Regions from separate parts of the Homo sapiens genome. Here regions 1 and 3 are each linked to region 2. The links come from fine-mapping of genetic effects on gene expression. A gene starts in region 2. Each other region holds a variant in brackets. All regions are shown on one strand. Distances are from middle to middle.

Region 1 (5,227 bases), 93 kb before region 2:
CCAAAACCTTTGGATGAAAACTTGTTAGCATACGGGCTATCCCTAGAGTACCAAAGTACCATCCCAGGGACCACTTACTTTTACAAAGAAGAGAAACTGGGCCAGGCACAGTGGCTCATGCCTGTAATCCCAGCACTTTGGGAGGCCAAGGTGGGCGGATCACAAGGTTAGGAGTTCGAGACCAGCCTGGCCAACATGGTGAAACCCCGTCTCTACTAAAAATTCAAAAATTAGCTGGGCATGGTGGCACACGCCTGTAGTCCCAGCTACTTGGGAGACTGAGGCAGAAGAATTTCTTGAACCCGGGAGGCAGAGGTTGCAGTGAGCTGAGATCGCGCCACTGCACTCCAGCCTGGGTGATAGAGCAAGACTCCATCTCAAAAAATATATAAAATAAACAAAGAAGAGCAACTGTACCTTTGAAATGGAGAGGTATGGTGGTGACCACCTTAATCCAGTGATTGAATTTCACATCACAAAAAATGGAACACTGTGGCATTACATGCTTCCTGATATGATGCAAATTCAACAACCTAATCTAAGGCAGTAGCGCTTCTTAATTGCATTAGAATCACCCGAGGAGCTTTTCAAACTCCTAATGCCAACTACGGCAGAATCTACTTGGGCAGGGGCGGGGGCCGGAGTTGCCAAGCATCAGTATTTTTTAAAGCTTCCCACATGATTGTAATGTACAGTTAAGATATTCTGAACAAAAACGTATACTCGAATCTAACTTCTAGTTTAAAGAATATACAGGAGATAGAGCAGTGGTTCTTACTTCTGACCTCATATTAGAGCCACCCGGAGATTTTTGAAAGTAGGGCCACCTGGGCTGCATCCCAAGGGCTTCTGATTTAACTGGATTAGAGCAGCACTCAGACATTTGTATGAAATTTCTAGGTTTTTAGTTTTGTATTTAAAACCCCCAGTGAGAACAGAGTGGACCAATTTATTACTTCTTCTTTGTAAGGCCAATTAATCAAAACAAGGAATTCTAATGTACAGCCCGGGTTAAAACTTACTGGGAAAGAGGAACAGGTTAACATCAAGAGAAAACACAATCTAGAATGTGGGACATTCTATAAGGCTGCGAGCCTGGATTCTTCAAAAAGTCAATGTCATGGAGGGAAAAAAAGAGGGATAAAACATTCTATGTTAAAATGAAGTTTTAAAATGTAATGTATGCATTAATTTGAGAGAAACAGCTACAAAGACATTTTGGAGGAATTAATGCAGTTTGTTTGTTTGTTTGTTTTTCTGAGACAGGGTCTCGTTCTGTCATCTAAGCTGGGGTGCCGTGAGTGGTGTCATCATAGCTCACTGCAGCTTCAACCTCCTGGACTCAAGTGATCCTCCCACCTCAGCCTCCTGAGTAGCTAGGCCTATAGACATGCACCACCACTCTTGCCTTTTTTTTTTTTTTTTTTAAGAGACGTCATTTTACTATATTGCCCAGACTGGCCTTGAACACCTAGGCTCAAGCAATCTTCCTAAAGTGCTGAGATTACAGGCGTGAGTCACCATGCCCGGCCAGAAATGTAAATATTTAGTTGATTTTAGATAGTTAATTTTCTTAGCAGGGATAATGACATTTTGTTTCTGTGGATAAATATCTGTATTCTTAAGGGATGAAATGCTGAATATCGAAAAGTGTTGTGTCATCATGTGTACATAATTTGCTTTCAAATGGCACACAAAAAAGAAAACCAAAGTACAGAGAAAAATAAAGCAAGTATTGCAAAATATTAACAATTGTGAAATTTATGTGGAGGGCATATGGGATTACACCATAATAATCTTTCAACTTTTCTGTGTGTTTGAAATATTTCATAACCGTAAGTTGAAGAAATGAGAAAGATTTTAAATAGAGATAAAAACTCACTTACAAGGCCATGGAATTTCCATCTGTTTTACTTCTCTGCAGGCAAGTCTACTCACAACTCCACCACACTCAATCAACCTTACACCACACCCAGCAATTAAAGGCTGCCTTTCTCAATCTTTGCCCACTAGATTTCGTGCATTCAAACAAGTGTAGAAAATGCTGGGTTATATTGGATTTATCCACAATCAGGCATGGCAAACACCACCAGGAAGCACTTCTCTCTTGAGCTGACCTGCCTCGCCTATGACATCCAAGAAGACTGGCAGTTATGGTATCCATGACAACTTTCCTATCTCATTTGGGCTTGAGAATCAGGCTTCCTCTAGTCTCTGACAGAGGCACTTCAAAGTAACAAGCCTGCAAATATTCTCATGGCACAATACAAGCCATATATGAAATACAAAACTATCTACCTCCCTGCCCTGGCTAGTCCCTTGCTGTGGGACAAAAATGCTTAAGCCATGATGGTAGGGCTCTCCTGGTAAGTATTTAGCAAAGGAAAGGAAGCTTTACAACATGACAAATGGCAAAAGGTGATTTCACTCTTTTCCCCCAGAATCATCAGAGGCTCTGCCCCACCTGTTAAGACTACAAAGCGGATAAAATACTGCCAGTCTGCCAGGAGCTCATGGTCAACCACAGTGGACAAATACCATGCTTCTAATTAGGCAGACTATAATAAACTGCATGATAGGGGTGTTTCCAGAGTGGTGTGGGTCTACAGAAGAGGGAA[G/T]TATTAATTCCATCTGTGGGTGTTGGAGAAAGCTACACAACGGAGTTCCTTGGCTTTTGACGGGGGAAGTGTTGAGAAATGAAGGGAAGGGCATCCAGGCCAGGCAGAACCATGCCAGCAAATGCACCAGTATGTGAAAGCACCCAGTGTGTTCAGGAAGTGGCACCAATTTGGTGAGGGGGAGAACAAGATAGGACCAAGATGCCCTGACTTCTTTGCAGGGCAAATTTTACTTAAGTGATTTACTGATTTGCTCTCCTCCTCCTCCTCTCCTTCTCCTCCTTCTTCCTTTTTCTTTCTTCCTCTTCTTCTTTTTCTTCTTATCATTATTATTATTATTATTCTCTCTTTAAGCATTCAAAAAAGATCTTGCATAAGAACTCAAGGGAGGGAGCACATTCCTTAAGTGGCATTCTAAATAGGGCTTTCCTAAGGCTCAGAAATGGTAGGTGCCAGGGTAATTGCTTGATAAGCAAACTGTACGTGTCAGGGCAGGAGATTCCAGGTCACCACAGTGCTTGCACTGAGGACAGTGCTCCCTAAAACTAGGCATCTGAGTTCTACAAGTAGGACAATGCAGCTACTACTTATTAAGAGCAGATATATTTATTCAGTTAATTTTTAAATTACATTATCCTTGTCAGCACTAGTGATGAAATAAAAATGGCTAAATTAATTGTGTCAAACACTGTTGGACATCATCTCTGTTGTTGTTGTTGTTGTCGTTGTTTTGTTTTTATTTGTTTTTTGTTATGGAGTCTCGCTCTGTTGCCCAGGCTGGAGTGCAATGGCTCAATCTACACTCACTGCAGCCTCCACCTCCCGGATTCAAGTGATTCTCCTGCCTCAGCCTCCCGAGTGGCTGGGATTACAAGCATGCGCCACCACACCCGGCTAATTTTTATATTCTACCAGATGGGGTTTCACCATGTTGGCCAGGCTGGTCTCGACCTCCTGACCTCAGGTATTCCACCTGCCTTGGCCTCCCAAAGTGCTGGGATTACAGGCATGAGCCACCGCACCCAGCCGACATCATCTCTTTAAAAACTCCCAAGGACTCCACAAAATAGGTACCATTATTATTGCCATTTCACAGATCAGAAAACGGATACCCAGACTTCAATAACTTACTTAAAATTACACTAATAAATGAAGCTGGAATATGAATTTCATAAGTCCAACTCCAAAGCCTATGCTTGATTACTTATGTTAAGTATGTAAGACATTTAAATAATTGTTCTGTAATAGTCTACTGTTAGGCACAAACAAAAGCCTTTATTTAGGTTTCTCTGTACTTTAGAGTTGCCAAATTCTTGCTAATATTTTATATTCCCCACAGCACAAAATAATACTGGACACCATTGTTCACATTCGTGTTGATTCGTAAGAAATATGTAAGGAAACATTATACTATACCCTTACTAGTGAAAGAAAATTGAGAAAGAGCAAGTGACTTGATGGGTGGATTGGCTGGTATGTCTGTTAGTCTGTGCATCTGTCTGTCTCTGTCTTTCCCTCAGGTTCTCTTACTGTATCTCCCTTTCTGTCTCATGTCTGTCTGTCTGTCTCTTTCTATCTAATTTTTATTTTTGCCTCTAAGTCTCTCTGTTTCTCTCACTCTCTCTCTCTCTCTCTCACACACACACACACACACACACACACTCTCTCTCTCTCTCTCTCTCTCTCTCTCTCTCTCTCTCTCTCTCTCTCTCAATTAAATTTCATAGCTACGACTGGGAGCAGTAGCTTATGCCTGTAATCCCAGCACTTTGGGAGGCTGAGGCGGGTGGATCACCTGAGGTCAGGAGTTCGAGACCAGCCTGCTCAACGTGGTGAAACCCCATCTCCACTAAAAATACAAAAATTAACCAGGTGTGGTGTTGCACACATGTAGTCCCAGCAACTTGGGAGGCAAGAGAATTGCTTGAACCTGGGAGACAGCAAGCCAACATCGTGCCACTGCACTCAGGCCTGGGTGACAGAGCAAGACTTGGTCTCAAAAAATAAATAAATAAATAAATAAATAAATTTCACAGCTGTACATTGCTTCCTAGACCTGGAACAAATTAATATTCTAGAATCAAATAGATATCATAAAACATTCCTATAGGAAGCCTCAAGTCCCTAGGAACTCAAGTTATCAGCTAAAGGGCACTAAAGGGCAACAGCAAAGAATATGGGTTCTGGCTGGGCGTGGTGGCTCACACCTGTCATCCCAGCACTGTGGGAGGCCGAGGCAGGCAGATCATCTGAGGTCGGGAGTTCAAGACCAGCCTGACCAACATGGAGAAACCCCATCTCTACTAAAAATACAAAATTAACCAGACATGGTGGCGCATGCCTGTAATCCCAGCTACTTGGGAGGCTGAGGCAGGAGAATTGCTTGAACCCAGGAGGCGGAGGTTGTGGTGAGCCGAGATTGCACCATTGCACTCCAGCCTGGGCAACAAGAGCAAAACTCCGTCTCAAAAACAAAAAAAAAAAGAATATGGGTTCCAGGGTCATACAGACCTAAGTCCTTGTAAGCTACATGAATTACAGCAAGTTATAAACTTAGATGAACTACAGTCTTCTTGTCTGTGAAATGGATAACGTTGTAACCATCACAT
Region 2 (5,227 bases):
CAGATAGTTTTAAATGATTCTAGAAGTTGAAGTGGAAAAATATAAATACAACAGCTGATAGTAATTCAAGACTGGCTTATGTCAAACAATTGCATTTCTAACCTGAGTTAATTCAATAACGTGAAATTTGAAATAAGATTTTTTTATCTTAAGTTTAAAATCATAAGGTTCTATAATATTGGATGTCAGTTGGTTGCAGTTCTCACCTATTTGAAAAAAAAATTGAAACTACTTGTCGCTAAACCATGGTAACTCAAAAACATTAAAGGCAAATATCTACTAAGGCACTATATTTCATTTCATAATTTATTTCTCCATCCCCCAAAAAAGGCATCACCTAGTTATTTATAGGACACTATCACTATTGCAACATAACAGAAAAATCTTAACATCATTGATAACTGTAGCATTTTAGTGTGTAAAATCTATATTAGATTTTAGGTGTCAAATCTATACTAGATTCTAATAGTGCACTCTACATTCAACCTCTGATTTAAAGAGTTTCATTTTAACCCAGCATTGTTTAAATTAATTTTAGGATGTGTTATGTCAGTCAAGATATACTTGCTTCTACTGAGAGACTTCTATTAAATATGCATTCAAGTATATATTTTACAAGGCATGACCTTGCGAGCCCTAAAGAGTGAGACTAAACTGCAGCTACAAATAAATGGTGCAGGAAATCAAAGCAAACTATATTCAGAGTCTAAATCCAAAATATGCATTCTGGTTCTTAAATTCCAGGTTTGGAAAGAAATGCCAACAGTAATAAATAAATAAACTGCTTTGAAAGCATCTCAAATTCCTCAAAAGTGCTTAAACAAAAGACTCAGCTTTGAGTACAACCTTAAGCTATCTCAAAACAAATAAACACACTTGATAAGGCTTAGAATGAAATTACCTCAGTCACTCACTGGAATGCAACAATGCATTCGCAAAGTTATTCTGAAGTAAGCTACTCCAACTAAACCACACTGAAAAGGAGAGAACGTGGATAAACTAAACATGTTTTGTGAAATACCTGTTTTGTATTGGCCTGAGTTTTTTAAAAGTTACATCTCATTCATTATCAGTATTTAATCTGCAAGAATATCATCAAAGGATGTCAATATGGACAAGCAGAGACAAGAAACATCAGACTTTCAGGGAGCCTATCTTCACAACCCTGAGTTATTAACTGAAGTTCTCAAAGTTAGATGAGTTAAGATACAGACAACGTGCTTTGCACAAATGCTTTGCTTATAGTAACCACTCAATAGTCATTAACAAGAATTTATTAACTATCCACCAAAACACAGTTTCAAACCCTACCGACAACTAACCACAAATTGCACCACTTTTCGGGCCGACTTCTACGGACGGTGCACAGAAGCAATAAATACACTTTTAAAACTCCCCAACTTGAAGACCAAAAAGATACAATAACTTAAACTGCTTTCAAAAACTACTGGAGTGTCATGCCTACAAATTCAGAACCTGGCTTAAAAGCTAGTTAACTGACTAGAATTCTTGGTAGACCCAAAGCCAACTAAATCAGGAACACTTAAAGGTCAAAGGCGTCCAAGCCGGGAGCGATGTGCTCCACTGTTACATGATCCCCGCCTCCTACAGGAACAGGGGACTGAACCAAAGGCAGTTGCGGCCGAAGTGCAGGCGACACACAGGGTTACACATCACCTTCGGAGATTTCCTCCAGGAATCAAGACGCTTCCCCCTTGGGTCCAGCGACTCACAGGTGACCCCGGATCTCAAGAGTTCTCGTCTCCCCCACCCCCCACTTAACCCCGCGAGCGCCGCCCTCGGCCCCCAGACCTCCCCCTGCACCCCCGGCTTCCGCGCACAGGACCGGCGGGGCCGCCGCTCCAGCCTCCACCCCAGGCCCGGGGCCTGGGGAAATGCGGCCCCGCGGCCCGCGCCCCCAGCCCGGCCCCCGCGCGCGCGGCCGGGACAGGATACTGAACACCGTCCGCTCCCAGGGCTCCAGCATGTAGAGCGCCGTGACCAGCAGGTACTGGTAGTAGAACCAGGACATCTGCTTCCAGGCCCGCGCCAGCGCCATCCCCGCCATGCGCCTCCCGCGATGCAGCTCACACGTCAGTCTGTCCGGCCGGCCGCCCGCTCACGTCCTAAAGCCCCCGGCCGCCAGGCCCGCCCGCCCGCCACCCAGCGCCCATTGGCCCGCCCGGCCCCGCCGTCACCCGCGGCACGCCCAGACCCGCGCGCGCCCCGGCCGCCGGCCCCCAGCCCCGCCCGACCCGCGCTCATTGGCCAGGCCGCTACCTCGCGTCGCGTCGTCCCCTCCCGTTTCCCCGCCCGGGCATCGCCCACGCTAGCCGGAGAACGGTCCCCGCGAGAGCGCCCAGCCGCGCCCCACCCCGCCCGGGCCGGCCGGTGGTGGGCGGGGCGTCAGTGCCGGCCGGGGTCCCGGGGCCCCCGCAGCCCAGCGGGCGCTCGGTCCGTCCAGACTGGCCCAGAGCGCTTGCGGAAGAAATATTTCTGGAACACTTGTTATGCCTCAGGCATCCTTCTGAGAAGGAGGATTGCCAGGGAGAACCGGAATGCCTTCGGTTCCTTACCTTGTGCAGCTGGCGGCCTAGCTGGGAGACAAGCATTAATCAAGTCGTGATCCGTGTAAGAGGAGATAAGGGGCTGAGAGAGGGTGAGGAGGCGAACGCCACCTAATAAGGAGGTCTGGAAAGGCGTCCTTGTAGAAGGGATGCACATTCGGCCTCCTTCCTCCCTTCCCCCACCCATGCACACACACACACACACACACACACACACACACACACACACACACACCCCTAGACGGACATAACCCATGCACTCCCTAACCCAGAGACCACTTACCAAAAACATCTATCTGCCCACCTCTTAGTGGCTGTAGGTAACCACCAAGTGGGTCAAGGCCAGAAGCGCGCTGATCTAGTGGGTTCTGCAGAAGACAGGCAGCTTGAGATTGGTGTGAGGGCTGGTGATACTTCCCTAGAGATGCACTCCTGGATGCCCAGATTTTCCCACTGCCAGATGGGCCAGCAACATTGCACTGGCCACAAGGAGCTCCATGCACTGGTGTAGCATGTGAACTGCCACAATTAAATGGCCTGCTGTTTAAATGTTAAAAGTCTTCCAGGTTAAACATACTACTGCTTAAACTTTAAAAGTTTCATGGTTAATAACTATTCATTAAAAGTACCAAGTGCCGGCCAAGCGCCGTAGCTCATGCCTGTAATCCAAGCACTTTGGGAGGCTGAGGCTGGCGGATCACTTGAGTCCAGAAGGTCGAGACCAGCCTGAGCAACATGGTGAAACCCCGTCTCTACCAAAAAAAATAAGTAAATACATAACAAAAAGTTAGCCAGGGGTGGTGGCGTGCACCTGTAGTCCCAGCTACTCAGGAGGTTGAGGCGGGAGGATTGCTCGAGCACGGGAGGTCGAGGTTGCAGTGAGCCAGGATGGTGCCACTGCACTCCATCTTAGGTGGCAGAGCAAAAGAAAGGAAAGAAAGGAGACAGAGAAAGAGAGGAGAAAACAGAAGAGAAGAGAAGAAAAGAAAGAAAACAGTAAGTAATATCAAGTGCCAGACATTGGGATAGCAAGCCAGATAGACTGAGACCTGCCTTCATAAAGTACCCAGTCTGCTGGGGAAGAGAGGCAAGTTAATGGATTACAGTGAGGTGTGGTAAATGATATTTTTGTGGATCGTATCCTTTAGGATACCAAGATAGCCCAGACAAAATCAGATTGGGCTTGTGAAAGTCTTCTGAGAAATGGTGCTTGAACTGAGTGTTGAAGGACAAGCAGAAATGGAAGAATGAATGAGCTTGGGGAAGAGAGGGTGAGACAGACATTCTAAGGATGAAGTTGTGATGTTTTTAGAAGACTGGAAGAACTTCCATGTGGCTGGAGCAAAAAGAATGTATATGCAGTAGCAAGAGATGGGCCTAGACAGCAAACAGGGACCATATTCTGAAGGACCTTGTTTGAGAAGCTAAGAAATTTTTAACTTGATGTCCAAAAGTTACTGGAGCCAACAACTTAAATAAGATTTTCTTTCAGGGCTGGGTGTGGTGGCTCACACCTATAATCCCAGCACTTTGGGAGTCCAAGGCGGGTGGATCACATGAGGTCAGGAGTTCCAGACCAGCCTGGCCAACATGGTGAAACCCCGTCTCTACTAAAAATATAAAAAATTAGCCGGGCGTGATGGTGGGTGCCTGTAATCCCAACTATTTGGGAGGCTGAGGCAGGAGAATCGCTTGAACCCGGGAGGCGGAGGTCGTAGTGAGCTGAGATCACACCATTGCACTCCAGCCTGGGCAACAAGAGCAAGACTCCGTTTAAAAAAAAAAAATGCTTTCGGAACAAGACTTGGGTGTGGGTAGTAGCCTGGAGGCTACCGAGGGAAAAAACAGGTTGGGAAGACATTACAAAGGTAGAACCCACAAATACTTGAAACCTCCTTACCCCTCAGAGATGCAGGTACACGTGCCCTCCTACTTTCAAACTTAACTGTTTTGGACTTCTTTCTGTCCCTGTTCCTGTTCAGGCACAGGCAAGCTCATTCCTTTTTCCTCGAGAACTCCAACTACCCTCAGCATCTGGTGATGCTACATAAAATTCATCCAAGATTGGAAGCATCACCCGTAGCCACCCTTCCTTTACTGGGTCCACTCCCTAGCACCATGTCTGCCAGGTGGTTGTCCTCACTGTTAGTAGCTCCCAATCCACTGCGTGTCTCTCGGAGACCAGCTCTACCACCTCATCTCACTAAAGTTGGTGACTGACTAGAAATGAGGAAAAGAGGCTGAGATCCTGGATGATGACAATACAAAGAAACCGAAGGAAGACGTTTGGCTGAAAAGATATTGATTTTGTTAGGATGAAGCTATGTCTGAGGTACCTGAGGGACACTTAAATGGAGGTGTCCAGGGGACAATTGAGCACATGGTTTGGAACTCAGAAGTGAAGCCTGAATGGAACTAGAGGCATATGAATTTTCAATATGTCCCTGGTCATTGAAGCCAGAAGAGCAGATGAGGTCACCCAAGGAAAGCACATAGAATGGGAAGAGCAGGGTACAGAATAAACCCAGAGATTCTGGCATTTGGCCAATGAGAGTCCAAAGGAAGCCAATACAGGGAAGGAGCTACCTGAGATTTGACAGCAATGAGGAGAGACATACAGGAGAAGCTAATGGAGGAAGGGATAGCCAGCAGAACAAATG
Region 3 (5,227 bases), 83 kb before region 2:
GGTTTATCTATCAGAATTGTAGGGGATAATGGTTAGGCAGACAGAAAATTACTCATGTCAGTGAACCAGATTGACTGAAGCCTTTGGATTTAACTGAACCAGGCCAGGCCTCACTCAGAACAACCTATTTGCTATACAGGTTTCCATGGGAACATAAAACCAAGAAAAAACAATCTGAATAAATAGCTCCAAAGTTGGCTTTCATTAAGCCATACTTTAAAGATGAAATACTCAGAACATGTATCATTTTTTACAAAAGACCAGGACCACCAAAAAAAAAATATATATATATATACTCATATATGTCTGATTTGTAAGATCCAATAATCTGGACAATTTCTGATATGATAGTCAAAAGTCTCACTATAAAAGGGATGGGCTCCTAACATTAGATTCTCTTTGATGTGACACAGTGGGAGGTACAAACATCACTTACTGGTAAACTACTGAAAATAGCAGGTTTAAATCTAACTATGATCCAGGGTATAGGCTGTCGTGTGGGACAACTGATCTGGACTCTCAAAGTTCAGGTCATGGAGAACCAAGGAAGGTTGGGGGACTTCCTAGACTGAGACCACAGAGGGATCCTTCCTCTTCCCAACCCCTGCCACAAAAATCCTATTCCTCTGTCTTCTCTATCTTGAGAAATGTCAAGCTGACCAAGCCAGAAATGTCTCTCTTTCTTGCTCCATAAGTAATCAATCACCAAATCCTATGTATCTTATAAACTTTTCTTCTCTATCTCTACCCCACTGCCCTGTTCTTGTCTTCATTGTCTCTCTTAAACTAAATATTAAACAAGCATCCTCCCACTGGTCTTTCTTGCCTCCAGTCTTGCTGCCCTCCAATCTATCTTCCACCCTTCTTTCTCTACAGAGGATGTTTCCAACACAAAAGTCTGATCACACCACTACCCTGCTCAGAATCTTTCAGTGGCTTCCTAGTGTCTTGAAGATAAAACCTAACAAACTCCTTTTCCATGGTAGGCAAGGCCTTCTGTGATCTTCATCCCTGCATTCCTTCCTAGTCTCAGTCTCCTTCTGCACCCATTCACAGCCAGTTCTCCAGACATACTCGATTGCTGTGGTGACTCTGAGTACGTGCTGTCCTCCAGAGCCACTGGGCCTGCACACATGCCATTCTCTGAGCTACATACTATCCCCTCCACCTCTGTAACAACCCCTCCCCACACACTCCTCCTAGAGAAGATATGTCTGTTGGAAAGCTTTGTCTGCATTGCCCAGATCTACTAAGAAGCTCCATTTCTCCGATTTTCTCATTGGTCCAGATATATAACCTCATGAAAGCAATTTATTTCTTTGTATTAAATTATTTGTTTATGCAACTGCCTTCCCTGCTGACTATGAGATTCTTAATGACATGGACCTTGTTTTTAATTTGGCTTTTTTTAAGTGCCTAGTCCATTCTGAGTTTATAGTAGGCACTCAACAATTGCTTATTTTAAAATTGACAGTCATCCCAGTGAAATTGTTTATTTCTTTGTTTTTAAGGACTTTAATTTCCAAATTATAAAGAGCTATGACCAGCTAAAAATAGGAACAAGAAAAGAGACTGGGAATGTGAGCGACTGCAGGAAATGAATTATTTGAAAGTCAAGCCTTTGGCCTTTTCCTTCTCAACGATGAGATAAACCCCAGCCTTCAAAGAATGTTGGGTAAAGTGGGGATGGGTGGGTTAGGGGGTTGAAATGCAAAGCAGGAAACAAGCTCATTTTGGATATCAAATTAATTGTATTGGACTAAGGAAAATTTACCCACACCCCTATGTTCTAACTCTATGATTTTAAAAATACAATATTCTATGCACACAGGAGGTGGTAACCAATGGGAAAAGGAGGAGACTGGTGCCTTCTCAATCTCTGACAAACAATCCAAAGATTGTAGAGATCCAAACAAAAGGATCTCTACATGAAGCACTATTGATACCAAAGAATCTGGCCTCGAGGAGGGATTCTCCACATTTTGCATACCACCAATCACTCTCAAAAAGCCGAGGTCCCATCCACTGCATAGCAAAAGCCCATTTCTGTTTTGTTTTGTTTCTGAGACAGAGTCTCGCTCTGTCGCCCAGGCTGGAGTGCAGTGGCGCGATCTCGGCTCTCTGCAACCTCTGCCTCCCAGGTTCAAGTGATTCTCCTTCCCCAGCCTCTGAGTAGCTGGGATTACAGGCACGTGTCACTTCACCCGGGTAATTTTTGCATTTTTCGTGGAGACGGGGGTTTCACCATGTTGGCCAGGCTGGTCTCGAACTCCCAACCTCAGGTGATCCACCCACCTCGGCCTCCCAAAGTGCTGGGATTACAGGCGTTAGCCACTGCGCCCTGCCACAAAAGCCCATTTCTTTAGAACACATTTATATGTTTAACTTCTTCTTATAATTATGTTTATGATACAGAGTAAGCTTCAAGAACAGAACAACAACAAGGCAGTGGGATTGTTGGAGCGAATTCCATTATGACTTCTTGCTAGCTGTATGAGAACACTGTGGCCAGAGCTCAGGAGGCCTCCAGGGAATACCTTGCTCTGGGAAACACAGGCTTTGATTCAGGCGGCATTGAGAAATCCTTTGAGGGAGACCTCCCATCTGCTGATGAGAAGAATGCTTCCCTCTCATTCTTGGCACCCTCACTTGGCTGGCAAGGTCAGGTGTGTTTTTCCAGTGACTAGCTCACAGCAGGGATAGAGGAGAGAAGCCCTTGGGGGCTGAGAGACAAAGGGAACCAGACTGCCCAGCGTCTGGTCAAGGTTTCCAAGGTCTTTTTCAAGGTTTCGTTTCCCAGCACTCTGTCTTCAGTTTACCAAGAAAAAGTTCGTAAAAAGAACCTCTTTAGTGGCCTTTGAAGAAGGATAGAGAGAGGGAGGCAGAGTCCAAGGGCCCTGTGAGCAGAGTGGGAAGGACATGGAGAACAAAGAGGCTCACATGATGGGGTAACTAGGGATTGAAGATATCAATCACCTTTGAGAAATAAAGTAGAAAAAGAGAGAGAGGGGAGGAAACACACAAATACCAGAATGGACTAGTGTATACCAGCTATTCAGCTAAAAAATGAAGAAAGAAAATGGACAGCCAGAGACAGCCTTTGAGAAGTTTGTTGAAAAACTATTTTAGATGAACTACCATAAAAGTACTGTTAACAAGTAGGAGAATTTTAAGGGGAACATTAGAAATTCAGCCTCCTGCATTCGTTTGTAAGGGACAAGGAACTAGTCA[C/T]GCAGTGGAGATGAGAGATAAGCCAGGAATGAAATGAAAACTTTGAAAGTTCCATGCATAGGGATAGCAGGATAATGATTTAAAGCATGAAGGCAGTAATTTAGGTCTAAAATGTCACCACCATTAATTGTAAGTTTTATTGTAGTCTGTTAGGGAAGAGTTCTCTGGGGATTATGAATAACTGCTTCTTGAAATGGAAACTGCAAAAACAATTGACATTTCTACAATCCTTAAGGAATAGAACTTTGAGAAAAATGACTTCTCAGGTGGCTATCTGAACATCAGTGTCTGAATAACTAACATTCATCCTTGCTTTATGTCACCCTCATTAATCAGTTCATATTAAAGATAACGCCATACATGTAATTATAGGCATAGCATTACGTTAAGCATTTAAGACTATCATATTGCACCATATCTTGGCCGTGGTGATGTATGGCCCCAATTTGAGAACACGTGTCAATTTTCCATAGATTTTCATCTGTATTCATGACTCAAGGGCCTTTAGCAAATTAATAATCAAAAGAATTTACAGTAGGCTGCTTTGTAAGTCCACACTTCATTACTTAGCATACTTCTCACTTGTTTTAGCTCTTAAAAACTTGTTCAGCTTCCTAAAAATATGCTTAACCTATTTTCCAATTGCCTTTGTTCCCGTGCTAGATGTTTGTTTGTTTGTCTGTCTGTCTGTCTGTCTTTAGAGATTTGGTAAGGGGGCGGGGGTCTCTCTATGTTACCCATGCTGGACTTGAACTCCTGGACTCAAAGAATTCTCCTGCCTCAGCCTCCCAAGTAGGTGGGACTACAGGTGAACACCACTATGCCTGGCTTGTTAGATTTTTAAAATCTAAGCACATGTGGTTTCATTTATTTTATTTTATTTTATTATGATTTTTTTGAACTTGTATTTTAGGTTCAGGGATACATGTGCAGGTTTGTTATATAGGTCAACTGCATGTCACCAGGGTTTGGTGTACAGATAATTTCGTCACCCAGGTAATAAGCATAGTCGCTGATAGGTATTTTGTCTAGTCCTCTCCCGACTTCTACCCTCCACCCTCAAGTCAGCTGCAGTGTCTGTTGTTCCCCTCCTAGTGTCTATGCATTTTTCTTGTTATAAGCTCCCACTTATAAGTGAGAATATGTGGTGTTTGGTTTTCTGTTCCTGTGTTAGGTTGCCTAGGATAATGGCCTCCAGCTCCACCCATGTTGCTGCAAAGGACATGATCTCATCCTTTTTTATGGCTGCATAGTATTCCATGGCGTATATGCACCACATTTTCTTTATCCAGCCTACAGTTGATGGGAATTTAGGTTGATTCCATGTCTTTGCTATTGTGAATAGTGCCATAATGAACATATGTGTGCATGTGTCTTTATGGTAGAACAATTTGTATTCCTTTGGGTATATACCCAATAATGGGATTTTTGGGTTAAACAGTAAGTCTAGGTTTTGTTTTGTTTTGATTTGTTTGAGACGGAGTCTCGCACTGTCGCCCAGGCTGGAGTGCAGTGGTGCAATCTCAGCTCACTGCAAGCTCCGCCTCCCAGATTCAGGCCATTCTCCTGCCTCAGCCTCCCAAGTAGCTGGGACTACAGGCGCCCACCACCACGCCCGGCTAATTTTTTGTATTTTTAGTAGAGACGGGGTTTCACTGTGTTAGCCAGGATGGTCTCAATCTCCTGACCTCGTGATCTGCCCGCCTCAGCCTCCCTAAGTGCTGGGATTACAGGCATGAGCCACTGCGCCCGGCCTTGTTTTGTTTTTTTGGGACAGAGTCTCACTCTGTCACCCAGGCTGGAGAGCAGTGGCGTACTCTCGGCTCACTGGGACCTCCACTTCCTAGGTTCAAGCAATTCTCATGCCTCAGCCTCCCAAGTAGCTGGGATTACAGGCATGTGCCACCACACCCACCTAAGTTTTTTGTATTTTTAGTAGAGGTTTGCCCATGTTGGCCAGGCTGGTCTTGAACTCCTGACCTCAAGTGATCCACCC

Direction of the effects. Alleles are on the strand shown, and positions count from the first base shown. SD is a standard deviation of normalised expression in the study named. Not every link is listed here.
As copies of C replace T in region 3, the expression in esophagus mucosa of the gene that starts at base 2,101 in region 2 goes down (small effect, 0.26 SD a copy in GTEx).

The links. PIP is the estimated chance that this variant, and not a neighbour inherited with it, causes the effect.
Region 1: its variant is fine-mapped to the expression of SPTSSA in whole blood (TOPMed, PIP above 0.99).
Region 3: its variant is fine-mapped to the expression of SPTSSA in esophagus mucosa (GTEx, PIP above 0.99).

The regions. Positions count from the first base shown.
Region 1 is chr14:34,366,819-34,372,045 of GRCh38, forward strand. No RefSeq gene overlaps it. Among named protein-coding and RNA genes, the nearest start is that of SPTSSA, 93 kb to the right of the region's middle. The variant G/T (reference allele first, on the strand shown) is at 2,619.
Region 2 is chr14:34,460,140-34,465,366 of GRCh38, forward strand. It overlaps SPTSSA (serine palmitoyltransferase small subunit A), which reads right to left and starts at 2,101. Exons shown (of 2, transcript NM_138288.4): 1 at 1,957-2,101. The coding sequence starts at 2,068. RefSeq lists enhancers at 1,314-1,423, 1,964-2,914 and silencers at 1,824-1,993, 2,114-2,623.
Region 3 is chr14:34,377,039-34,382,265 of GRCh38, forward strand. No RefSeq gene overlaps it. Among named protein-coding and RNA genes, the nearest start is that of SPTSSA, 83 kb to the right of the region's middle. The variant C/T (reference allele first, on the strand shown) is at 3,232.